Linked DNA regions of Homo sapiens. The protein of the gene in region 1 purifies or fractionates together with the protein of each later gene. This does not show direct contact. Each region holds a gene or a part of one and is shown on either strand. Other genes may lie near its edges.

Region 1 (16,005 bases):
TAGTAGGGACATTCTTGTTGAAATCAGACATTTACTAACCCAAAAATCTCAGACTATGCACTAACACATTTAACAGAAGCAAGAATAAATGAGGCATTCCACAAAAATCAATAATACAAAGGGAAGGCTTAGTTAAGAAATTATGTTAAGAATTATGTTAAGACTGTCAGTTAACAATTTGGGAGTAAAAACCAACTTAGAGTCTCATCTTACACGGTATCTCAAAAGAAATTCCAAATTCATCAAGGAATTACATTTCAAAACAATCAAATCATAGAAAAACTAGATGAAAATTTAATAAACAACTTATAAAATCACTAAAGGGAAAAGCTCTTTGTCAACTTAGCATAACTGAAAATCAAAGAAACAGAAAATAAACAGGACAGGTTTGACTGCACAAAAAAAATTCTTTTTGCTAAAAAGTCTTAACATCAAATAATGTACTCGAAGAAACAAAACACAATCAATGTTAGACAAATGACGTTCTTTCTCTGAGAAGAGAATATTAAAATGAATAACATCAAGAACAACAATAGAAGAACAAGCCAATGACATAGGCAGTTCCCAGAAGAGGATTTACAAAGAGATAACATTTTTGCTTATCAAATTTAACAAAGAATTTGGCAAGGGTTCTGTGAAACCAGTCACCAATATGCTAGTAAGTGTACAAATTAGCACACCACTTTTGGGATTTGATAATTTCTATTACAAGCCATGAAAATTGTATGTCTTTAATCCAGTGATTCTGAGAATTCACCTTAAGTAAATTATATGAAAGAAGAAAAATTGTGTACAAAAATATGTCCACCTTGGCATTTTTTCTTCTTATTCTTCTTTGCCTCACTGTATTACCACATTACTTTTTTTCTAATAGTAAAAAATACATACACACATGTAAATGCCAACAAGAGGTTAAGTTCACTACGGTAAATTTACTCAATGGAAAATTTTTCTGTCTGACTGTTATGTTTATGCTGACTATGTTGAGTAAAAACCCCACAAACTATAGAATTAGACATTCAGAATGATTTCAACTGTGATTAAAATTACAAAAACCCACGCATAGAGGGGAAAAAAAAAAAACCTAAAAAAAGATTTCTACATCCCAACCAGTGGTTGCATTCTAGCAGTTGGAAGGTGGGTGATTTTTAAAATCTTTTATCTTTATCTCTGTCTTTTGTGTGTGTGTGTGTGTGTGTGCTTTTCTAATTAGTTAATGATAATATGAAAACCTGAGATTAAAAAAATATATATATATAATGCTTGGTGGGGAAAAAGGAGACCAGTAAGGATAGCTTTCAATTTTTTCCTTCTGTATCAGAGAAACAACTTGTGGTCTGGGTTTGTGTTTGAGGCATGGCAGGGCGCAAGGTTTACACAAAATTAAAAGTTATGCATTGAATTCACCAAAGCTCAGCTGATGAGGCATGACCTTTCAGGGTCAGAGATGAGCATTTCAAGATGGGGCTGGGAACGAAGCATGAAGTGAGAGAGAGATGTGGGAGTGTCAAGTGAGACAGCAATCCCACCCAAATGATGGGAGAACAGCAACAAGAACCTGATTCATGATTTTTTTAAAAAAAAATTGAAAAATAAACAAGTTTCCTCTGTTCACAGGTCAGCCATCACATTATAAAAATGTGTATTACATAAGCAGTAAAAGACGACATAAAAGAGACAAAATGCCAGCTTCATAGTGAAGAGTAGGTGAAGGTAAGAAAAGAGATTTAAAATATAATTCCCCCAAAGCTTGGCAAGCTATCAATAGCATCAAGAAGTTAAGAACTTAAATATTTTCCAAATTGAATATTTAGGTTAAATCACCTTGTCTATCTTAACGGGACAAAAGGAAGAGAAGATTCACAGTAGAAACTGAAAATGAAAAAACTATAATATCACAATATAGAAAACAGAGGGGCAACCTCACAGAGGTTTATGCAAATTTATAAACAATTGTTAATACTCCCTATATTAATCTATTAAAACCAACCATCAATTTAAAAAAAACAAAATTCAATCATCTTTTGTCAAGGAAAAACACTAAGAAAATGAAAAGACACAGAGTAAAATGATAGCATAATCTTTGGTTTATCAGGCACATTTTGTGCTAGAAAGGAAGGGAATAGGACAAAGTAATTTTTTTTTTAGTAAAAAGAATTGAGAAAGTAACATGGAGACTCCACAAGAGTGAAAGTTACAATAAATAATGAAAACTTAAAACACTCAATTTCTGTTCCAATTAGCACAGCAAACAAGTACATAATGGGACCATGCAGGAAATGCAAAAGAAATTTTAAAAAATGGAAATATAATGTAGCTGGAGCCCTTAGTGCCCCTCCTGTGGAATACCCATGATCAAAATAGACAGAAATTAGAGCTCTGAACAACCCAACTAATAAGGTAGACTAGCAGATCAGGGAGAAGTACATCATAAATCAAGGGTCTATGCTCTCTTTAGAAGAATAGAAGTGTCTTTCACAAAATTTACCCCATTCCCGAGCACAGGCAATGGCAATTTTACACTCCTCATTCTCGGACCACAAAGAAAATAGCTGTTTGTTGGTCCTGACCACTTAGCTGCAGTGCCATATTAAAAATACAGGCATTTCTATGCATTCTTTTACACAGGCTCTTCACGTGTGAGTCAGAGACAAAATCAGACGTACATTGCTGAAATATTGTAAAGAAACAATATTTATACACAAAACACAAACGCAGTCACCACTTTAAGGAAAGTGGGAATTCCTAAGTGTTCTTTTAAACATGAAAGGGAGAAACGAGGTGAGCCAAGGCTACACTCAAAGATCCTGGAAGTGGAATGGGAGTGACCATGGCCAATGCACAGCTCTGATCACCCTAGGACCCGAGGCTGTCTGTCTGCAGGGGCTGAACTCGGAGGGGCTAGGGAACCACAGCATGGGAGAAGATGCAGAAAGGCCTAGAGATGCTCCTAATCCCTAGAGGGAAAGGCACAAGGTCATCCATCCTCCAGTGATCGTGACGTGTTCCACCATAAGACTTCACAGGGTCAGAAAAGGAATGGGTTCCAGGTGCTGCAGAAAGCAAACCTATCTCGCAGCCAGAGTGTCTGAGAGTAGACAAAGCAAAGCAGCCTCGTCATGTGGAGGGCTCTCTGTCACCAGAGGTATGCAAGCAAAGGCAGGGCTATGTGCTTATCCAGGGTGCTGTAGAGGGAATTCATGCACACAGCCGTGTCTTACTGAAGGGTGTTTTTGTTTGTTGATTTTTAACCCTGAAGTAGAATCTCCTTTCAATATAAGGCTGTTTTCCAATGTTTGGTGAAAAGGAGAGAAAGTATGTGACGTGTGGAAAGGGACTGGGGTGGAGCACAGAGGCCTTGCTTCTCCTCCTGGCTCCCTCTGCTTGGGGGTTTCCGTCTCATTTCTTCCATCCTCAAGGCCCTGCTCAGCCCCGAGCCCGGAGCCCTGGCCTCAATGTGCTGATTTGTTTGTTTGTTTAAGTTAGCATCTTGCTTTGTCACCCAGGCTGGAGTGCAGTGGCACAATTGAGGTTCACTGCAACCTCAACTTCCCAGGCTCAAGCAATCCTCCCACCTCAGCCCTCCGAGTAGCTGGGACTACAGGCATGCATCACCATACCCAATTAATTTTTTATTTTTTGATTTTAAAATTTATTTTTATTTATTTATTTATTTTTGAGATGGAGTTTCACTCTTGTTGCCCAGGCTGGGGTGCAATGGTGTGATCTCGGCTCACTGCAACCTCTGCCTCCCAGGTTCAAGCAATTCTCCTGCCTCAGGCTCCTGAGTAGATGGGATTACAGGCATGTGCCACCACGCCCGGCTAATTTTGTATTTTTCGTAGATACAGCGTTTCTCTATGTTGGTCAGGCTGGTCTCGAACTCCCGACCTCAGGTGATCCACCTGCCTCCCAAAGTGCTGGGATTACGGGTGTGAGCCATCGCTCCTGGCCTAATTTTTTATTTTTTGTAGAGACAAGGTCTTACTGTGTTGCCCAGGCTGGCCTCAAATTTCTGGGATCGAGCAATCCTCTTGCCTCTGCCTCCCAAACTGCTGGGATTACAGGCGTGAGCCCGAGCACCCGGCCTGTGCTGGTTCTTAATTGCTGACTCTACACATTCTGCAGCTGGGATTCCCGCAACTGCCAGTGGTCCATGGTACCCTCATCCGCCCACACCCTCAAGGATCCAGTGTCCCACTTGCGGCAGCCCTGTGGCTTTGCCTGCACAGCTGAGACCTCGAAACCCAGCTATGTGGCTCCACACCAGACCTACCTTTCTTCCCTCTGTGGCCTGGACTTTCCAGAGAACACAAGCAACAAGAAGATCACAACCCTAAGGAGGGTTGCAACTGAGAAGGTGGCCCTTCCTGCAGCTGCCAGGCTGTTATCTGCACAGAGCATTGCAGCGTGAGCCACCTCAGAGATGGCAGGGCCAGAGCCTAAAAAAGCAGCATTGGCACAGCCGCAGGGATGGATTTGAGGAGCCCTGGAATACTCCCCCAAAAATGCCGCAGTTAGAATACACAGCGTATCCACCAGTAACACCATAGTGTGAATAAAGTCATCCGCCTGTGCCTGAGCTGGGCTTCTGGGGGCCACGATAGAAGAAGGAACAGGACACAGAGGGGACAGAGCACATGACCACAATCTCCCCAATGCCTGAATGTTGCTGGAGCTTGGGCTGGGGGGTTGGAGTGGGGCTGGGAGAGGGGAGGGGCCGGCTTGGGGACGTGAAAGGTGGCCAGCAGTGTGCTCAGTGATCTACGATGGGAACTCAGGACACTCCTAGGAGATTGCCCTAATTATGCCCATTTTACAGATAAGGACAGTAAGGCTTAGAGATGTTAAAGATTCTACCCAAGGTCAAAAAGGCCGTGAGGGACCAGCTGGAACTCATGTTCTGAGTCTCTCCTCCTCGCTCACCCTGGCCCCCATCAGCATCACAAGCAAGAGCATCTGGGATCCAGGAGTTGCCAAGCCCCCTCCTCACTTCTTTGCATGCTCATGCTCCTCTTTCTCCTTGGACTCTCTCCTCCACTGCTAAAAATCCCACCTCTTCCTTGAAATGCCCACTTCCCAGGTTCACCCACATCATCTGATGTGGTTTTCCCAGTGCAGTCCTGAGTGGGTGCCTTGAAAAGTCCTCTGTGTATCCCAGGGGGAGCGTGTCCCTGCTGTCCTCCAGCAACCCCAGGACCAGGACCATGTCCCTTTCACCTTTATCACCGAGCCTCACATACAGTTTGTCGTTGGGAAGGTCTTATTGCATGAAAGAGGGGGTGAAGAAATGACGGAACAAATGGCCAGGTCTGCTGCAGCTCCACAGTGACTGGTGCTCCCTTTACAGCTGGGACAGCCGCTCAGAACCAAAGGCAAACCTTGCCTTCCACAGAGCTGTGGGCGGCACTTTGCCCTGCCCTGTCCTCTCATCCCCACTGCCTCGGGCAGCACAAAGCCCAGGTGAAGCCAGGCCAGCCAGACATGTCCTGACTTTGTGTTCTCACTCTCAGGGAAGAATCTAGAATGTTCAGGGTTCTAAGTGCTGCTGTGTCTTCCCGCCCAGCCTCTCCAAGAGACACTTGGCTAGGGTTAGAGAACAATGCAGCTATAATGTAGGATAGCAACCAGGGCTTTCCTCTCCATCATTTACTGCCCTTGAGCGCCCCGTGAGGAAGAAACCGTGTATTGCCTCATGCCCCAGAGAGGTAAACGGAGGCTAGAGAAATTACGCAGCTGGTGAGTGGGTGAGCCTGGGCTCCCAGGCTCCTTCTGGTCCCCAGTAAGCACTTGCTCAGGGCTGCAGGATGATCCCTGAGAGTGTGTCATCTCGGGCGCTTGGTGGTTTCCCAACAAGATTCTGGGGAATGGGCGGCGGGCTTGGTGGAGGGCGGTGGCACGTGAGCTACATGCCCCGGGAAGGCTCCCAGGCTGCCTATGGGGAGGTTTCCCGACCCGACATGATGCTGCAACCCTGAGTCAGATCAGGAGGAAGTTGAGGGTTCGTAGAAAAATGTCACTCGTAATCGGGGACAAACCAGGTCTGCCTGCCGCTGCTGCTGTCACGGAGGCTGCCTGGAGGCTGCCGCTGCCCTGACACCTGGGACTGCTCGCTGAGTTGGGACAGGTGTGCACAAAGCCCAGGCCCACACAAGCCCCACTGATCTTAGGAGAGTTACCTGCAGTCCACAAGAGCAAGGTCAGGTTGGAGGCTCCGTGCCTTAGTTTCTCTAAATGGCCCAGAGGCTGTTACCTGTTGGTGGTCCGGTGCAGCTGAGAGGGCTGAGAGATGTCATTTCTCCTCCAGGCCTGGCTGTCAGCCTGTTCTGGGGAGAGTCACTTCCCCTCTCTGGGTCTCGACTTCCTTGTGAGTGAAATAAAGGGGTGGGACCAGATGCTCTTTGAGCCGCTCCAGTGTCACCCTGTCTGGCTTAGGGGCTCTTGCTCTGGGGTCTACAGAGAGGCTGTGTGGAACTAGAGTGTGGACATGGGGAGCAGTTTCCAGGAGGAGGGTCTACACTCTCCCGCCCTCTTGGAAGATCTGCACGCCCCCCTCCCGCAGCTCCAAAAAACAAAACAAAAAACCAAAAAGCCAAAAATCACACTGCATGTGTCAAGCCCTGGGAAGCCTCTGGAGGAGGAAGCCTCCTACGCACCCCAGACACCCTAACAGGGGCACCACACAGGGGCAGCCATTCTCAGCACCTGCCAAGGGCCGTCGTGGCTTCCAGCACTTTGGGGGTTTAGGATTTGAAACTGCTGCCCACAGAAAGGAAAGGAAGGTGGTGCTATTTAGTACTTGCAGGTTAGGACTTGCGTGCCTAGCGTCGGAGGAGACCTCAGCCACTGCATGTGTGTCTGCAAGAATGGTCAGTGGGGCCCCACAGGTTCCCCAGCCTCGGCTTCTCTGTCCCAGGCCTGCACAGAGATTTGGGGCAGCCTTGGGCCTGTGGCTTCCTAGGGCCCTGCAAGCAGAGATTTCCCTGGCATCTCCCACCTTCAGGGCTGGGAGGGCTGAGACTCACCCGTGGGCCTGGGTGGCTCTTAGCTGGGAGCCCTCATAGATTCCAGCCCATCAGGAAAGTCTGGGCTGAAACTACCCCGGCAGATGCAGCTCTCATGCCCTGGAGGTGCTGGGAGGCCCTGTCGGAGGACCAAACACAAGCAATTTTTAAAAGCTATGCGTGCTGGGACTTTCAGGTGTCTACAGGAATAGAAACTACTCCTGGGTTTTTTGGATGATTCATCCAACACATGGGTCCCCTCTGTAAATAACACCTTGCAAGTCACTGCAGGGGAACCACCTGGCCCTCTGGAGCTGGGTCTTCCCACTGTCTGGTGAAGAGGTTGATGGAACCATGACAACTTTTAAGCTCTCACCTGGGCTTGTGCGATGGGCAGTGCCAAGTCCACTGCCTGCTCCAGGCCGTGGAGCCCCAAGCTGGCCTGGGTGCCAAGACAGGGCACAGGGCAGTCCTGCCCCCAGCGAGGCCCCCCTACTGGGCCACCAGCCCAATCTAAGCCAAAGGCTGGCTACTGGGCAAGGGGGGGCAGCCAGGCCCGCACCCTGGGTGCGGGAGGAGGCCAGGAGCCTGCTGGGACAGTAGCAGGGAGGAAACACACCGGTGTCTGGCACCCACCTCCATACCCAGAGCCTGCAATGTGAGGCCCCAGGAAGGCATCCACACTGAGTGGCCTGCAGGGAGCAGTGTCTCTGCTCAGCCCCTTCTCAAAGGGAGCCTTGTCTACTCCCATTCTGGCTACCTTCTTTTTTTTTTTTTTTTTTTTTTTTTGATACAGAGTCTCGCTCTGTTGCCCAGGCTGCAGTGCAGTGGCACTATCTTGGCTCACTGCAACCTCCACTTCCCGGGTTCAAGTGATTCTCCTGCCTCAGCCTCCTGAGTAGCTGGGATTACAGGCTTGTGCCACCAGGCCCGACTAACTTTTTTCGTATTTTTAGTAGAGACAAGGTTTCACCATGTTGGTCAGGCTGGTCTTGAACTCCCGACCTCGTGATTCACCCACCTCGGCCTCCCAAAGTGTTAGGATTACAGATGTGAGCCACCGCTCCCGGCCCTGGCTACCTTCTTTTAAGAAATGAATATTTCTACTTTATTGCTGTTGCAATATTAAAATTTTTAAATTTTTAAATTTTTGAAAACATGCACATGATTCAAATACATATGTAAACACATATAGGAAAATATCTGTCCCACTCCTAAATCCAGCTCTCACCTACCCCCCAGGGCACCACTGTTAAGTTTCTTCCAGAGTTTCTGTGCCCGCCCGTGTACACCTGAGCTCTTATTTTCTCCCTCTTTTGACACAGAAGCTAGAGACCACACGAGCTGCTCTGCAGTAGAAGGCATTGTCCACCTCCCTCTCCTGTGGGTATCCCTTGGATACCTTGGGGGATATCCAAGGTATATGGGGGATCCCTTGCCAAGATACGTCTCCAGAGAGACTCAAAGGTTTGAGCTCCTAAGAGCAAGGCTAGGCAGGGACTCGCCCAAGGCCCCGTCCTAAGGCTCAGGCCTGTCCCTCGAGCTTTTCGCCTCCCCTTGCCACAGGCCTGGGGAGTCATAAATAGGAAGACCTTTCTCAGAAAATTTCCCTTAAGCCTCCTGAAACTTCTCCCCCTAGTCCTGCCCACCCTCTCACCATCCAGAATCACTTGGAGGTTTTGGGAGCCTGGGCAGGTCCCTGCCTGTCTTCCAGGCTGGGAGCCCCGAGTTGGGGGGTTTGGGGGCACACACCTTCGACTTCACCAGTGGAGCAGCTTCGGAGCTTCAGGAACCAGCTTCTTCTAGGGCAAGGAACAAGTGAATCTGACTGTGTTTATCAAAGAGCGGGTCCAGGATAGCTGGGCGCTCACCACATCCTCCCCTGACGCTGGTGAAATTCGCTCCTTCAGCAGCCAGAGGCCTGGCCCTGCCCTCGTGGGGCATCCTTTCCCTCCAAGGGGGGAAACCTGCCCACCAGGGGGTTTGCAGGGTGACCACTTGGCCCAGAGCTGTGCAAGAAGTGCTCCCAAGCCTGCCCCAGAGAGCTGGTCAGGGAACAGGGGCAGGGGCAAGAGCTGAACCCTAAGAGACACGGGGAGGGAGGAGGATGCTGGAGGAGGGCAGCCCAGGTGCAGGCACAGGCAGGAGGGGCACGGGGTTGGTGAGGGCCCGGGCACCCTCTGCACCAGGGTAAGGGGGGAATGGCAGGAGCCGAGGCTGGAAGCTGGCCAGGCAGGAACCAGGGGCACGGGCCGCCCCGGGGTCCCAGGGAACACACGCTTGGCACAGGGGCAGCATGTGACAGACCCACTGGGGCAGCAGGGGTTGGGTTGGGATGAGGGCACCAGCAGCAACAAGAAGGAATGAGGGCAGGAGTGGGGGCGTCAGAGTGTCTGAAAGAAGGATCCAGGGCATCTGAGGCAGCCGGACTCTGAAGATAGCCTCAGCAGGTCTCTGGCCGCCACTCCCCACAAAGCAGCTCTGTCAGCTTGGGCTGGTTGCCTAACCTCTCTGAGCCCATTTCCCCAGCCGCAAATTGGAGTTACACATCCATTCAATCAAAAAATGTTTGTGGATCATCTCCTAGGGACCAGGCAGTGGTGGTGAAGACAGATGACAGTACCTGTCTCAGAAAACGTTGTTTTAGGAGTCGGCATGGTAACAGGGGTAAGTGTACCCAGGAAGTGCCTGGTACTCAAGCAGTGACTGAGGCCCCCATTCCTCGTTGATTTATGCCTGCCTTTGTCTCCCCTGCTGGGTCTATTTGAAGGAAAAGAAAAAAAAAGGAGGAACATTGATAATGAGACCCTCATGATCCAAGGAAAAGGGGTCCTAAAAATCAGAGGAAGCCCCAACAGAGAGAGGAAGGCAGGGGAACTCAGGAAGAAGAGGCAAAGAGAGGAAGATGAGCAGCACCTGCCCCCACCCTCTGCTCCAACCCTCCAGGTGCGGCCTGGAGACAGACTCAAAGGGTTGAGCTCCAAGAGCTGGGCTAGGCAGGGACTTGCCCCAGGCCCCATCCTATGGCTCCCCATCTGGCCTCTCCCCTCCCATTCTGCCGGGAACACTTCTGTTCCCAAGCCCCACTTCTTTATTTTATTTTATTTTTTGTAAAAATAGAGATGGGGTTTTGCCATGTTGCCCAGGCTGGTCTCGGACTCCTGGACTCAAGCGATCCCCCACCTCGGCCTCCCAAAGTGCTGGGATTACTGGTGTGAACCACTGCATCCGGCCACCAAGCCCCACTTAAACATTGAGCCCGGATGACTCCCCTGCACGGTCAGCTGGGTGCTATACCACACGAAGCCCGTTCCTGGAGCCTTTGCCAAGTCCCTGAGGACTGACACCCTGCCCCCTAGGTGCTCACAAAGACAGGAAGGTGCGTGCCCCCAAGCCCCCCAACTCGGGGCCCTGATAATCCCCCTTAGCAATTGAAGATGTCTCCTTGAAAGTGGGCCCATGGTGGCTGAGGTCAGTGATGCTTAATGTCAAGGCAGAAGGGAGTAAAACACGCAAGGGGGCAGCAACTGTCCAGAATGCAGCCTTCCCCTCCCATGTCACCCCACGTGCCCCTCTGTCACTCACTGGAAATGTAACATCAAGGTTACAGGAGAAGGTTGCAGATGCTCAGATATCTGTGCCTTCTGTTCTTGTCATGATCCAGCCAATTCTTTTAGAGCCACCAAGCTTCTCCCTGCAGTCATCCTGCCCATGGCTGTTGATGGCCCTGATGGGGCTTGGAGCCCCCAGAATGTGCAGAAGTTGGACAAAGGTGGTCTTCAAATGCAATGGTTGTCTTATCACCGAAAGCCCACGGCATCCAGAGGAGGCCCTTTACTACGAAGTTTACAGAGAGCACAGGTCTCTGTACGTCCCAAGTTTCCCCTGCTGCCAAATGCAGGGGAGGAGAGAATTCTGGAAGCCCACCCTGTCCCATGGCTCCCCTGGCACATGGAGCCACTGAATGTCTTGTGAACATTAAACAAATGCTTCCAAGTGAACACCTCTGGCTCTGTCTCATCCAGGTCCTCCTGAGGCCCTCCTGAGGTTTGGCGCTCAAGGGAGCAGAGTCCTGGGCTAAACCCTGGCAACAGCTTCCCAGCATTCCCTCCACTCCCGCCGGGCAGCCAGGACCCCCCCGCCTCCCACCTGGGCCTTGGGGCCAGGAGTCAAGGAATGAGGGGATTCTGCTCACCTCTGAGTACCCCCTCTGGCCTCCCAGCAGCTCCCTGTCCAGGCCACCAGGTCACAGCTACTGAGCTACACTTGTTTATTTCTCAGGGACACGGGGATAGGAGTGTGAGCAGATGGTGGACCCTTTTGAAATACTTATTTTCTTTTATGTTTCCTGTTGCATAAAGTGTACTATTTCCTTTGCCCACATGCCCATCAGGAGCCTAATATTCTGTTTTCCACTTTAGCTATTGAATTCCTATTCTTCTTACGTGTTGAGTCTTTTCTCCCTACTTCACCCCTTCCCACCTCCCCTACACACAGACATTTTTATCTTTGGGTTTTTTGTTTTGTTTTTCTTTTCTTTCTTTCTTTTTTTTTTTTTTAGACAGAGTCTCACTTAGGCTGGGGTGCAGTGGCATGATCTCAGCTCACTGCAACCTTCGTTTCCTGGGCTAAAGCGATCCTCCCACCTCAGCCTCTCAACTTCCCAGGACTGCAGACACGTGCCACCACGCCTGGCTAATTTTTGTACTTTTGGTACAAAATACAAAGGCATTGAGAGGTTTTGCCATGTTTCCCAGGCTGGTCTCCAAGTCCTGAGCTCAAGCAATCCACCCACCTCAGCCTCCCAAAATGTTGGAATTACAGGCTTAAGCCACTGCGCCTGGCTCAGTTTTATCTTTGTTTTGCGGCATGGAAATTGTTAATTGTGTCGTTCGTCTCCATGAATTATCCTGTAGCACTTTAATAATGAACCTATCTTCACCCTTCTGTAGTTTGAGTAACTAGGACATTCATTTCCTTCCTGAAAGTCTTTTATTTAATTCTGATTTTTAAAAAGTATATATTGGGGTGGAAGGTAAAAAAATCTTCTCCAATACTGAGGGGCTGACAGGTGAAGGCTATGGGGAGGTCCCCACCTGCCCTACCTACCCGCCACTCCCCCGGGAACTGTGCCAGCACTCACACCCTATTCTCCTGCAAAACGCTTTGTCCTGAGAGCCTTACCCCACATGCAGAGCTACCACCTCTGCTCTTTAATGCCATCAAATATCTTCCAGGGCACACCACACTCCAGTACCTGGCTCAGTCTTCATCTCCACCCCAAGTCCTCCCGACTCTTCAAGGAGACGTCATTGCCAATGGTGACAGCTCCCTCCAACACTGACCCTGCCTGTCCTGAGGACCACGCCGAGGGCAGTACACTTTACAAATTAAGTCTGTTCATTCTCCAAACACCCTGGGAGGTGCAAACGATCAACAGCCTTGTTGACAGAGGAAGAAATTGAAGCACAGAGGGCTGGAGCCCTGTGCCCAAATGTGCACCACGAGCTTGATGCAGAGCTGGGATTGGGCCTAGGAGATGGCACCTAGAGAGGCCGATTTCTACCTGTCCCACCTTGCTGAACCCTCACCAACCCCATGAGGCAGGACCCACAGGCACTCCCACTTTACAGGGTGGAAATGGAGGCATTGAGAGGTTTTGGCAACTCGCCTGATAAGCCCACTTGTTAAGACGCTGAGCAGGAACACAGTGCACCTGCTGCTGCCACAGGCCCCGACCGCTGCACCCACGAGGGCCCCACTTCACAGTCTGGCCTCACGGTGCGACCTCCTGCTGCTCTCACCCCTGCCCATTAGCCCCATCCCCATGAGAGCATGCGGGGCCCCTCTGCTCCCCTTCCTTCCACACCCTGAGTGGTGCCCCACTCCACTGCCCGGGCCACCCCTGGCCCAGTCCATTCGCCTGCTTGCCCACTCCACCCCAGCCCCTTTAGCCCATGGACAATGCTCCTGGAGCCAAAGGGAACCATCCAAATGGCAGTCTCAGGGCACCAGCACCCCTCACCCCTTCCCTGGTGGTAGGGCAGCCCCACCCCAGCCCGGTCCCGTCGAGGCCACTCCACACCTCAAGGCCTCACCTCCAGCTCCTCACCATCCCCAGACAGCCTGGCCTCCAACTTCACAGAAAAAAATCTCGGTTCTGAGGCGTGAAGCTCCAGCTCCTTGTCCTACAAACCAGCCGCGGTCTGCACCCAACCAAGTGACAAAGGTACTCTGCTGCTTAGAGAAACACCTCCACGCCACCAGCCCGCCGACCTTCTCTGGGCGCCTGCCCGTCAGGTGGTTGCAGCTGTTTGTGGGAGGCATCCAGAGGGCAGGAAACATGTTAGAGGAATTCACAAGATTAAAAACTCATTCCCTACATAATTGGTGCTGAAGGCAGAAAATTACCACCGGCTGGATGGATATTGTTTCTATCATCTAAGGTGACTAGAAGTCTTAATTTGTGCATTATATCATTTTGAAATTACAGAGATTTCTGTAAAGGTACATTGCATTCTGTTACATAATGCACATAACGTTACATGAAGGGGAAGCTACTATGGAAGGAAAGTCTTCAGTGTTCATTAAAATAGTTGGATCTACACCTCTTCTAAATGAAGACAGCATGGCTGTGAATGTTTATATGATAAAGGTACATAAAGCTCCGAACAGAAGGACATGTTCATTACAAGGACAGTCTCCACGTGGGGCTCGAAACTGGCCAGGTCCTGCCTCTTCCAGCTGCCCAGCTGTGCCTGCATGAGCCCCAATCTCTTGCTTCGTGTCTGGCCGTCATCCTAAACCAGGCCTCTCTCCCACTCTTGCACCACCTCCTCGCTTCCTGTGACAAGGCACACCCTGTTCTAGCCCAGGCTCGGCCTGGGACTGCCTCCATCAGGGCCTCAGTCTGCACATCCCTGTAGCTGTGCTACAGGCAGGACTGCTGCTCTCTCTCTCTCTCTCTTGCATGCGCTCGCTCTCTCTAATTCTCTACATGTGAGGTCACAAGGACAAATCCTAAGGGAACAGAAGCCGGACTGAACTCTGACTTCAGAGCCCCAGGATCGTGCTCTCACGCTGATCTTTGGCAACGATGAAGGGAAAATGGGTCTGCTTTCACCCGGCTGCTTCCAGCCCACTCCTTTCCCTGCCCCTTCCTGCCTCTTCCCCCTTCCCTGCTACCCTCCATCACTGCCTTCTGGTCCTGTGCCCTGTCGCCTCCTGTGGGCCTAGCCAAGCCCCTGAAGTCCCCTGCCCCGCCCAGCTCCCCCCTTCCCTCCGCCCTCTCTGCCTGGCCTGCCTCTCTGCTCTTCACTCTTCCTGTGCTCTTGACTTCCCTTCTGGCCTTTCTCTGGCCTCCAGCCACCTGGGCAGACTGCTCCACTGCCCCATCTCCCTCCCATCCGTCCACCGCATCCTCCACCTGCCCTCCGTTGGCCCTTCCTGCAAACCGTCTCCTGGGACCCTGATGTCCCTGCTAGGGGAAGTCAGGAACCTACTGAACACACGGGGCAGCCCATGGTGTGCAGCTGCTGGGCAGCCTGGCAGGCCCTCCAGGAAGCCCCCATCTCCAAGGGAGCTCTCAGCCACCTGGGGACTGGCCTGTGGCAGTGGGTGGCTGTCCCTCCTCAGGTTGGTCCACAGGCCAAAGAAACTAGAGCAACCTCCTTTCATGTCCACCCTCAGTCCCCTTAGGCTTTCAGAGCGGCCATAGAGGTGGTGGCTGGACTCAGGGGACTCAGGGCCTCTCTCCTTACAGGGCTTGCCTCTTATCCAGGAGCAGCAGCCCCTGCGCCGGCAGCATTCCCCACTCCTGGAAGTCAGCGTCTCCAGGAGGCAGGGCGGGGGCTCCCTTGGCAGGGCAAAGGCTGCCTGGGTGGGGGCAGTGACAGCAGCGGGATGAAGCTCTGCTGTGGGGGTGGGAGATGCAGGATGCAGGGGATGTGTCCGCTAGGAGAGGCATTACCAGGTCTTCCCCAAGAGCTCAGCCTCTGAAGTTCTTGACTTCAGTTTCTGAGGCCACATCTGCAGTCACCCCAAAGCTTCCGGTGACCACCCCAGAGGTGCTGGGTCAGGCTGTGGTCACTTCCTGCCTCCCTCTCCTCGCCTCTATTGTCACCTGGGCTCAGGGTGCTTTCCTTGCCCACCTTTTCAACCCTCCTTTCCAGTGCTAATAGACTGGACTGTCCCCCAGGGGCACTGGCCTAGGTATATGGGCCGCTTATTTGGAGAGACCCCTCCCTGCACTGGCTGTTTCTCCACCTGCCCCTACAACACAAAAGGCTGACAGAATATGGTGATTTCTAACCCAGCCCTGGCCCTGGAATCACAAAACCTAGGTCTGCATCAGGGCCAGCACCTCTCTGCACCTCTCTCACCAAAAGCTGTGGAACGAGCACCGAGTACTGATTCCAGGTTTCTGGTCCCCGGCCTCTCTCCGACCCCAGCACAGCTGCTCTTTCTGCCCCTCAGGGATGGGGGTTAGTTCCCAGGACCAAATGTGAGATGACCACCTCTGTGAACAGCACAAGTATCCACTGAAAGCCCCAACCCTGAGCTCTTGGTCCCAGGGGAAGGAGGACACAGGTCAGAAGAACCAGGGACAGCCAGCCTGACCCAGCCCAAGTGCTTAGCAAAATGCTTAGAGCCCGGCCGCCTCCCTCCCCGGGGCCCACTCCATGCTGACTCCTGGTAACCTCTGGGCAGGAGTCAGCCTCCCCTGGGGAAGATTAGCATCCGGACGCCTCGGGGTGGCCCTGTTTGCTATCTGGGGTGGGGTGAGGATGACCATCTGTTCTGGTTTGCCCAGAATGGATGGGACTCCTGGGGGGACTCTGGACCTTCAGTGTTAAACCCAGATAGTCCCTAAGAGTGAAGAGCCGTCACTGCAGGTCGGCAAGGGAGCTTTGGGGATTAAGCCCTCTCTTCAGTCGGGGTTTCCCACCCTGACTCCACCCACCAAGGAAGGGCATTGTCCTGTTGGGTTGGGCTTCCCCCA
Region 2 (8,176 bases), on another chromosome or scaffold:
TACACTTCCTGGCCAAAGGGCCTTTGTTGCTGCCCTGAGGGAGCAGGAGTTCAGCTCATGGAGCGGAGGGTTTGGAGAGAGGGCCTCCGGGTCTGCTGGTGGGTTAATGTTCCATCAGTGCAGCCTGGGGAGCAGGGCTGGGCTCAGCGGCTCTCAGCCGGTGCTCAGTCTCTGTTGGGATGGAGAGTGAAGGGCGGAGCAGAAGCCCTTCCCGCTGGGACACGGCTTCTCCAGGGGACACTGCTTCTCCAGGGGACATGGCTTCTCCAGGGGACACGGCTTCTCCAGGGGACATGGCTTCTCCAGGGGACACTGTTTCTCCAGGGGACACTGTTTCTCCAGGGGATGGCAGCTTCTCCAGGGGACACGGCTTCTCCAGGGGAGGGCAGCTTCTCCAGGGGAGGGCGGCTCCTGGCTTTTTGACTGTGTAAGAAACATTTTACATCAGGATTTAGACGCATGGAACATGTGTGGGAATTGGAAGTTTTGCAGAATAAGCATTTGCTGTGTGTGACGTGCTTCATTAGCTATTCTGCTATAATTTTTTCTTTTTTCTTTTTAATTTTTCTTTCAATTTTTAGAGAAAGGGTGTTGCGCTGTCACCCAGGCTGGAGTGCAGTGCTGCGATCACCACTCACTGCGGCCTCAACCTTCAGGGCTCAAGCTGAGGAGCTAGGACTACTATGGGCGTGCGCCGCCGTGCTGGTTAATTTTTAACAGAGTCTCGCTGTGTTGCCAAGGCTGGTGTCAAACCCCTGGCCTCAAGTGATCCCCACCCACCTCTCCTTCCAAGAGCGTTCTCTTTTTTTTTTTTTTGAGACAGTCTCACTCTATCCCCCAGGCTGGAGTGCAGCGGCGCGATCTCGGCTCACTGCAACCACCATCTCCCAGGTTCAAGTGATTGTCCCGCCTCAGCCTCCCGAGTAGCTGGGATTACAGGCACCCGCCGTCTTGCCTGGCTAATTTTTGTATTTTAGTAGGGATGGGGTTTCACCGTGTTGGCCAGACTGCCCACTTCAGCCTCCCAAAGTGCTAGGATTACAGGTGTGAGCCACCGGGCCCGGCCATCCAACAGTGTTCTGTTCGTGTTTAAAATGCTGCTTGTGGCCAGGCATGGTGGCTCACGCCTGTAACCCCAGCACTTTGGGAGGCCGAGGCAGGTGGATCACTTGAAGCCAGGAGTTCGAGACCAGCCTAGCCAACTTTGCGAAACCCCGTCTCTACTAAAAATACAAAACTCAGGCATGATGGCACACACTTGTAATCCCAGCTACTTGGGGACCCCCCCCCCCCACAGACAAACATGCCGCACCTGTGGCAGTAACTAGGCTTGAGCCCGACTGTCTTTCCTCCCCTGGTTCTGGCAGGAGAGGCGGGAGATTTTTGAGCAGCACCTGAAGAGCCTGAAGCTGACCCAGTCCAGCACCTTTTACTCCCAGCGTCTGGCAGAGCTGACACCAGGATTCAGTGGTACGTTCTCAACCCGCAGCCTGGGCAGCGTCACGTCCTGAGGGCAGGTGGTGTCACCTGCGCAAACAGCATCGAGGCCTCCTCTGTGGGGTGGGCGCTGCTCCTTCTCTGGGGGCCTCTGCTCAGTACAAGCCTGGGAGGGAGCTGATGTGTATGTGGGGCAGCAGGAGGTCCAGACGGCACCCGCACTCCGTCCTCCGCCCCGGGGTGGAAAAGCAGACGGTGGTTCCCGGTCTGTGTTGTTTCCAGAGATAGTGGAGTTATGTTGCTTCCACACAGTGACCAGTCATGCCGGCGTTTCCCGTCAGACCCAGAGTCAGACCACGCAGTCCCGGCAAAGCCGCCTCCCTCTGACCCTCACGGTCTCTGTCAAGTTGTAGAAATAGAAATCATACCTCAAGATGCTTTTCCTGCTGTGTGGTTCACATTTTAAAAGTTAATGTCAACAAACCTCCCTTTTATTATGAGATGAATTTGCCCTTTGATTATTCGTTAGGGTCTTTCACTAGAATTTTGTGGTTACTAGAGAGCCTTTAATTTCTTTGCCATCAATGCTCATGAGCTGTTAGGTGGAATCAGCCACAAGATGGGGTGTGGAACTAACTGCCCTTGGGAGGAGAGACGGGCGTCAGGGCGGATGGAGCCTGGCGGTTCTGTGTCTCGTCTGTGGAATGGCCTCAGTGGAACACGGTGCAAGTGCCTGCCGCTCTCCCCACCCCTGCTCCTGGCGCCGGCGCCTGCCGCTCTCCCCAGCTCTGCTCCTGGCGCCAGCTCCCCGTGCCTCTCTCCCAGACGCTCTCACCAGCACTCTTGGTTCTTGGTCTCTTTTCCCTCTTTGTTCTTCCTTTTATTTATTTACTTATTTATTTTGAGACAGAGTCCTACTCTGTCGCCCAGACTGGAGTGCAGTGGCGTGATCTTGGCTCCCCGCAGCCTCCGCCTCCTGGGTTCAACCGATTTTCCTGCCTCAGCCTCCTGAGTAGCTGGGATTACAGGCGCTCACCACCACGCCCGGCTAATTTTTGTATTTTTAGTAGCAATAGGGTTTCACCCTGTTGGCCAGGCTGGTCTCAAACTCCTGACCTCAGGTGATCTGCCCACCTCAGCCTCCCAAAGTGCTGGGATTACAGGGGTGAGCCACCATGCCCGGCCATCTTTGTTCTCCCTTGAGGGCCCCTTCCTCCTCTTAAGCCCTGATAGCAGAAACCCACCCACCCACACCGTGGCTGTTTGTGTTGACAGGGGCTGACATCGCCAACATCTGCAATGAGGCTGCGCTGCACGCGGCGCGGGAGGGACACACTTCCGTGCACACTCTCAACTTCGAGTACGCCGTGGAGCGCGTCCTCGCAGGTACAGGGGGCGCGCCCTGGGTGAAGGCCCTCCTTAGCAGGGCTTGAACCCCAGAAATACCCAGGCAGGTATTGAGAGGTGAGGTGGATGGAACCATCACACAGGAAGGAACACACGTTGCGTTTCAGTTCTGCGTAACTCATGTCTTTATGATACCTTGTACTTTTCCTTAGTTTAAAATATCACAGATTTACCTAAGAGTAGACGCTCGTCCAACAGAAATAAAAAATGCCTTGCCAAAGAAAGTGAAAAAATAAAAATAAAAAATGCCCCCCAAAAATAAAAATAATAAAAACTAAAAATGTCTTGCCAGCCTGGGTGTGGTGGGCTCAGCCTAGCCCCAGCCTCATGGGGGCTGAGCTCCAGCCGCTGACTGTGGGCCGGAGGGCTGCTGCCGCCCGTGGCTGTGGAGGGACAGCCGTGCTTTCAGCGCAGCAGGGGCTCTGCGGAGAGGTGTGGATCTGCAGCACCACCTCTGGTGAAACTCATGGTCCCGACCGTCAGTAGGAACGGGAGATGAGTTTTGGTGACGGGTGACCGGTGGGCTGACCGCCTCTGACTGCCGTTCCGTGGCTGCTCAGTGTGGGGTCTGCGACGTCTGTGAGGAGAGAGGACCAAACTGGGAATCGGAGCTGCTGGAGGTTTCCATAGCTATGATGGCAACACCCAGACGTGATCAGTCATCTCATGGAATGGAGTTCAGACCCGCACTGTCAGTGTGAGACAGGTTGAACGTTTGAAAAGGGAAGTGGTTCTTGCCCCAGGTGTTTGAGGAGCACGAGCCTCCTTTGCGAGCTATCCCTGCGAGAACCGAGTTCCTCACCCTCAATTCGAGTGAATTCCTAGCACGAACACGCCTCTTGCAGGTCCCCAGGGCTTCAGCTTGGGAAAGCAGTGGGTTCCTGCAGAGGAGTGGGGCAGCTGCTGTGCCAGACACTGCAAAACACACCTGGCTTCTCTCCGACAGCCCTGCGGGTCGAGAGGACTGGCGCTGCCTGTGTCTTACTGAAATTTATTTTCGTGTAACCATTTACTTTTATGTGGAAATCGAAAAGCTTTTGATAATAGTAGCAAAGCAGGAAGGACTGAGTGGGAACCACAAGCCAGTTGAAAGAAAATACATGACGTACTTGAGTGCTCAGGACCACGAGCTGATTCAAGTTGTACAGAATGGACACTTACAGATGTGTGGAAAATCTGAGACAGGAAATGAAGCCTCACCAGTAAGCTGAACAGGGGAGATTTAATGCAAACATTTGTCCCTGGCTGGGCACTGTGGCTCATGCCTGTAATCCCAGCACTTTGGGGGCTGAGGCAGGAGGGTTGCTTGAGGCCAGGAGTTTGAGACCAGCCTGGGCAATACAGCAAGACCCCATCTCTTAAAAGAAAAGAATAAAGAGTATTAGCCAGGCATGGTGGTGGAGCACACCTCTGGTCTCAGCTACTCAGGAGGCTGCAGCAGGAGGATTGCTTGAACCTGGGAGGTTGAAGCAACAGTGAGCCGTGATCGCACCACTGCCCTCCAGCCTGGGCAACAGAGTGAGACCCTGTCACTGACAGAAAAAAAGCCTTGTCCCTGAGGCAAAAAGCTTCTGAAGGGGTGAGTAGAAGCCATAAGGATCCAGAAAGTGATGGGGATGGGAGCTGCGCCTCCAGGTCTGAGGGGAGAGGGAAAGTAAGCAGGAGGCCCGTAACTCAGAGGAGGCCTCTGCCCATCCTGCCAGGGAGAAAGTCAAAAGCTGCTGTTCTGTGACCCTTGCCCCGACCCTGTGGCACCCCCCCAACCATGGGGCAGGAGGAGACACTCCTCAGAGGGTTGCACTTGTTCCTAAAAGCAGCAGGAGCTATTTCGATGATTGCAACATTTATAAAAGAAGAAATCACGACCTCCTTCAACAGCCCTTTGACCTGAAGAGTGTCGTTTTGAGTTGGGGTGTCCAGAGCCGCAGCTGCAGCTCCAAGAGGCAGATGTGCAGAGAGAGGCTTGCTTTGACCACACGGGGCAGGAGCAGGGCCCAGCCAGGGAGAGGCCGGGGTCTCAGCTCACCCCCCCGTCATTCTTTTTTGTTTGTTTTTTGAGACGGAGTCTTGCTCTGTCGCCCAGCCTGGAGTGCAGTGGCATGATCTTGCCCTACTGTAACCTCCGTCTCTCAGGTTCAAGTGATTCTCTTGCCTCAGCCTCCCAAGTAGCTGGGACTGCAGGCGCCCGCCATCACACCTAGCTAATTTTTCTATTTTTAGTAGGGACGGGGTTTCACCATATTGGTCGGGCTGGTCTCGAACTCCTGTCCTCAGGTCATCCGCCCGCCTTGGCCTCCCACAGCGCTGGGATTACAGGCGTGAGCCACCGCGCCCAACTCATACCCCGGCATTCTTTCAGGGACTGCCAAAAAGAGCAAGATCCTGTCCAAGGAAGAACAGAAAGTGGTTGCGTTTCATGAGTCGGGCCACGCCTTGGTGGGCTGGATGCTGGAGCACACGGAGGCCGTGATGAAGGTGGGTCTTGGCAGGTGCCGGCTCCACGGGCCTTGGCCAAAGGTGGGTGGGGAGTCCCGCCTGTGTCTGTAGCTGACTGGGGAGTCCCGCCTGTGTCTGTAGCTGACTGGGGAGTCCCGCCTGTGTCTGTAGGTCATGTGAGAGGAAAGCCTGCCACTGTCATGATCCATGGAGCAGGGTGGGTGGCGACTGATGGGCGGGAACTCGGACGTGGGAGGCAGGAGTGGGCTGTGTCACATCGGAGCATGGTGCTGCTACTGGGGTGACTCGTGGAAGGTTACACCATGCAATGGGGTTTCGCTGCCTTTGCCTGTCCACCCCAAATGACTCCTAACATTGGAAAGAAGTGAGTTGAGTGTACATTTAAAAAATACTATTCTAGGCTGGGCATGGTGGATCACCTGAGGTCAGGAGTTCAAGACCAGCCTGGCCAACAGGGCAAAACTGTCTCTACTTCAAACAAACAAACAAAAAACTACTCTTGTAGGCAGCTGTGAACTCGATGGACATTTATTCTTACCAAATGGTGATGTTACAGCTTCTCTAAGACGTGGCTCCACCACCGGGAGTCCGAGTGCTGCCAAGAGGAGGTCTCTACTCGGAACGCAGGTGCCGTCTTTACAGTGGAGCCCCAGGAAGCCGTGCAGGTTTGAGGCTCACCTGAGAAGGCGGCAGTGCTGTGTTCCTACCTCAGGGTTCACTGCAAACAATGCATACGCTGTAGCAGTTGCCAGCTTGGTTTGTCAGTGCTGGTCTCCGTGATTGGTTCTCAGGTGTGAGTTGTAGCAAAGTTGCGTGTTAATCAGAGAGCGTCCTGCCCATCCCAGGGTCTCAGCAGGGCTGAGGCAGCGTTTGGGGACCAGATCCGTGCTGCTCCTTGGCGATGTGCACCACAGTCATGGGACCAGAGCTAGGCCCACTGTGGGGCGAGTGGACACTCAGCTGGGGGTCCCATTTATGGGACACTAAAAAACTCAGCAGTGAACACGACGTTTTAACACGGTATGTCAAGAAATCAAAATTAATGCAGGGACTTTGGGAGGCCAAGGCGGGCAGATCACTTGAGGTCAGGAGTTCGAGACCAGCCTGGCCAACCTGGTGAAACCCCATCTCTACCAAAAATACAAAAGAATTAGCTGGGCGTGGTGGTGCGTACCTGTAACCCTAGCCACTTGAGAGGTAGAGGCACAAGAATCGCTTAAACCCGGGAGGCAGAGTCTGCAGTGAGCCAAGACTGTGCCACTGTACTCCAGCCTGGGTGACAGAGCAAGACTGTCTCTCAAAGGGAAAAAAAAAGAATTTTTACTGTATTTGATGGGCAAAAGTCAGATAGTCACAATGAAAAAGTGAGTCTCTTTCCCAAGGCTCAGTGTCCTGCCAGGAAAAGGTTGTGAATTGGCTGTTATGGTTTTGGTCATTAATGCAATCATCACTGCAGCCGTTATTTAGAGCTTCTTTTTGTTTTGAGACAGGGTCTCTCTCTCTGTTGCCCAGACCGGAGTCCAGTGGTGCGATCACAGCTCACTGCAGCCTCGACCTTCCGGGCTCACACGATCCTCCTACCTCAGCCTCCTGCATAGCTGGGACTACAGGCATGCCCCACTGGTGGCTCGAGTGATTTTTATATTTTTTGTAGCGAAGGGGTCTCGTTATGTTGCCCAGGCTAGTCTCGAACTCCTGGGCTCATGCAATCTGCCCACCTCTAACTCCCAAAGTACCGAGATCACAGATGTGAGCGACCCCGCCCAGCCTAGTTTTAGATTTTAAATTAAGCGTCCTCGGGATTCTCAGAGCACTTGGATGTGGCCATCTCGCCGCCACAATTCTCAGAAGCAGCAGCTGGGCCAGCCCCTGCCCCGTCTCCGTCCGTCTCCCACTCAGCGGTTCCGTGTTGTCGAGTTAGCTCGTTGCCCCGCGCCACCTCCTTGCACACCTGATGTGGGGCTGTGGGGGAGCAGCAGAGGTGAGGACAGCCTCTGCTGCCTCAGCATCGTGGGGTTCTCATTGCTCTGAACCCTCAGTAGCTGTCGCTGGTGTGAGGGGTCAGCGCAGCGGCCATCGGGGGTGAAACTTGTCCTTCGCCTCTCAGCTGTCTTCTACGGGCCTTGTCTTCTTGACTCCCTGCCTGTCTAGTCATGTATGAGAAGACACTTCCCGGCAGTGTGTGAACAGGCACCTGTGGTGGGAACGCTGCTGTCTCTGGGCTGGCCATCTAGAGTGTTAGGATCCCCTGTTGTTGTAGAGGATGCTGCACATTTGCCTTCCTGCTTTGAGACGCTTTAATGACGGAGACCTCTTAGTCCCACACCTTCCTCCTCAAAGCCCACGCATCCTGCCTACTGACCTGGGTCATCTTGACCTTGTGCCAGGTCTCCATAACCCCTCGGACAAACGCCGCCCTGGGCTTTGCTCAGATGCTCCCCAGAGACCAGCACCTCTTCACCAAGGAGCAGCTGTTTGAGCGGATGTGCATGGCCCTGGGAGGACGGGCCTCGGAAGCACTGTCCTTCAACGAGGTCACTTCTGGTGAGGAGCAGCGGCGCGGGCCCTGGAGGTTTCAGAGCGCTTTTCCCTGCATGACTCCTTCTGTTCCAGTGCATGCCATGGGGTGAATCTGGTGTAGACGTAGCTTTGAATTTATTAAGTATTTTGTAAAAGATAAGTTGTGGTCATAAGAGAGTTGGAGCTAAGCAAGACTTCTTAGATAATTTAATTGGACAAAAACTTAACCTATATGCCAACTCTAGACACATTTAATTGGTTAATTGTTGGTAATGGCTACAGGAAACGGAATAAAATTGAAGCGGCTTCATTGTTCTGAAGCCATTACTGCACTGGGATATCCAGAGAGCTGAAG

What was found.
Region 2: the proteins of GPR55 (region 1) and SPG7 purify together in Homo sapiens (affinity purification with mass spectrometry; 2 studies listed by BioGRID and IntAct, with this or other methods). This does not show direct contact.

The regions. Positions count from the first base shown.
Region 1 is NC_000002.12:230,918,915-230,934,919, forward strand, and holds the start of GPR55 (G-protein coupled receptor 55), read right to left. Parts: upstream 6,329-16,005; 5' UTR 6,254-6,328; exon of another isoform or gene 6,180-6,253; intron 1-6,179. UniProt on the Homo sapiens protein: G-protein coupled receptor that binds to several ligands including 2-arachidonoyl lysophosphatidylinositol or lysophosphatidylglucoside with high affinity, leading to rapid and transient activation of numerous intracellular signaling pathways.
Region 2 is NC_000016.10:89,545,291-89,553,466, forward strand, and holds part of SPG7 (mitochondrial inner membrane m-AAA protease component paraplegin isoform 1 precursor), read left to right. Parts: intron 1-581; coding exon of another isoform or gene 582-668; exon of another isoform or gene 669-886; intron 887-1,367; coding exon 1,368-1,470; intron 1,471-2,712; coding exon 2,713-2,823; intron 2,824-3,404; coding exon of another isoform or gene 3,405-3,427; exon of another isoform or gene 3,428-3,492; intron 3,493-5,203; coding exon 5,204-5,319; intron 5,320-7,688; coding exon 7,689-7,845; intron 7,846-8,176. UniProt on the Homo sapiens protein: Catalytic component of the m-AAA protease, a protease that plays a key role in proteostasis of inner mitochondrial membrane proteins, and which is essential for axonal and neuron development.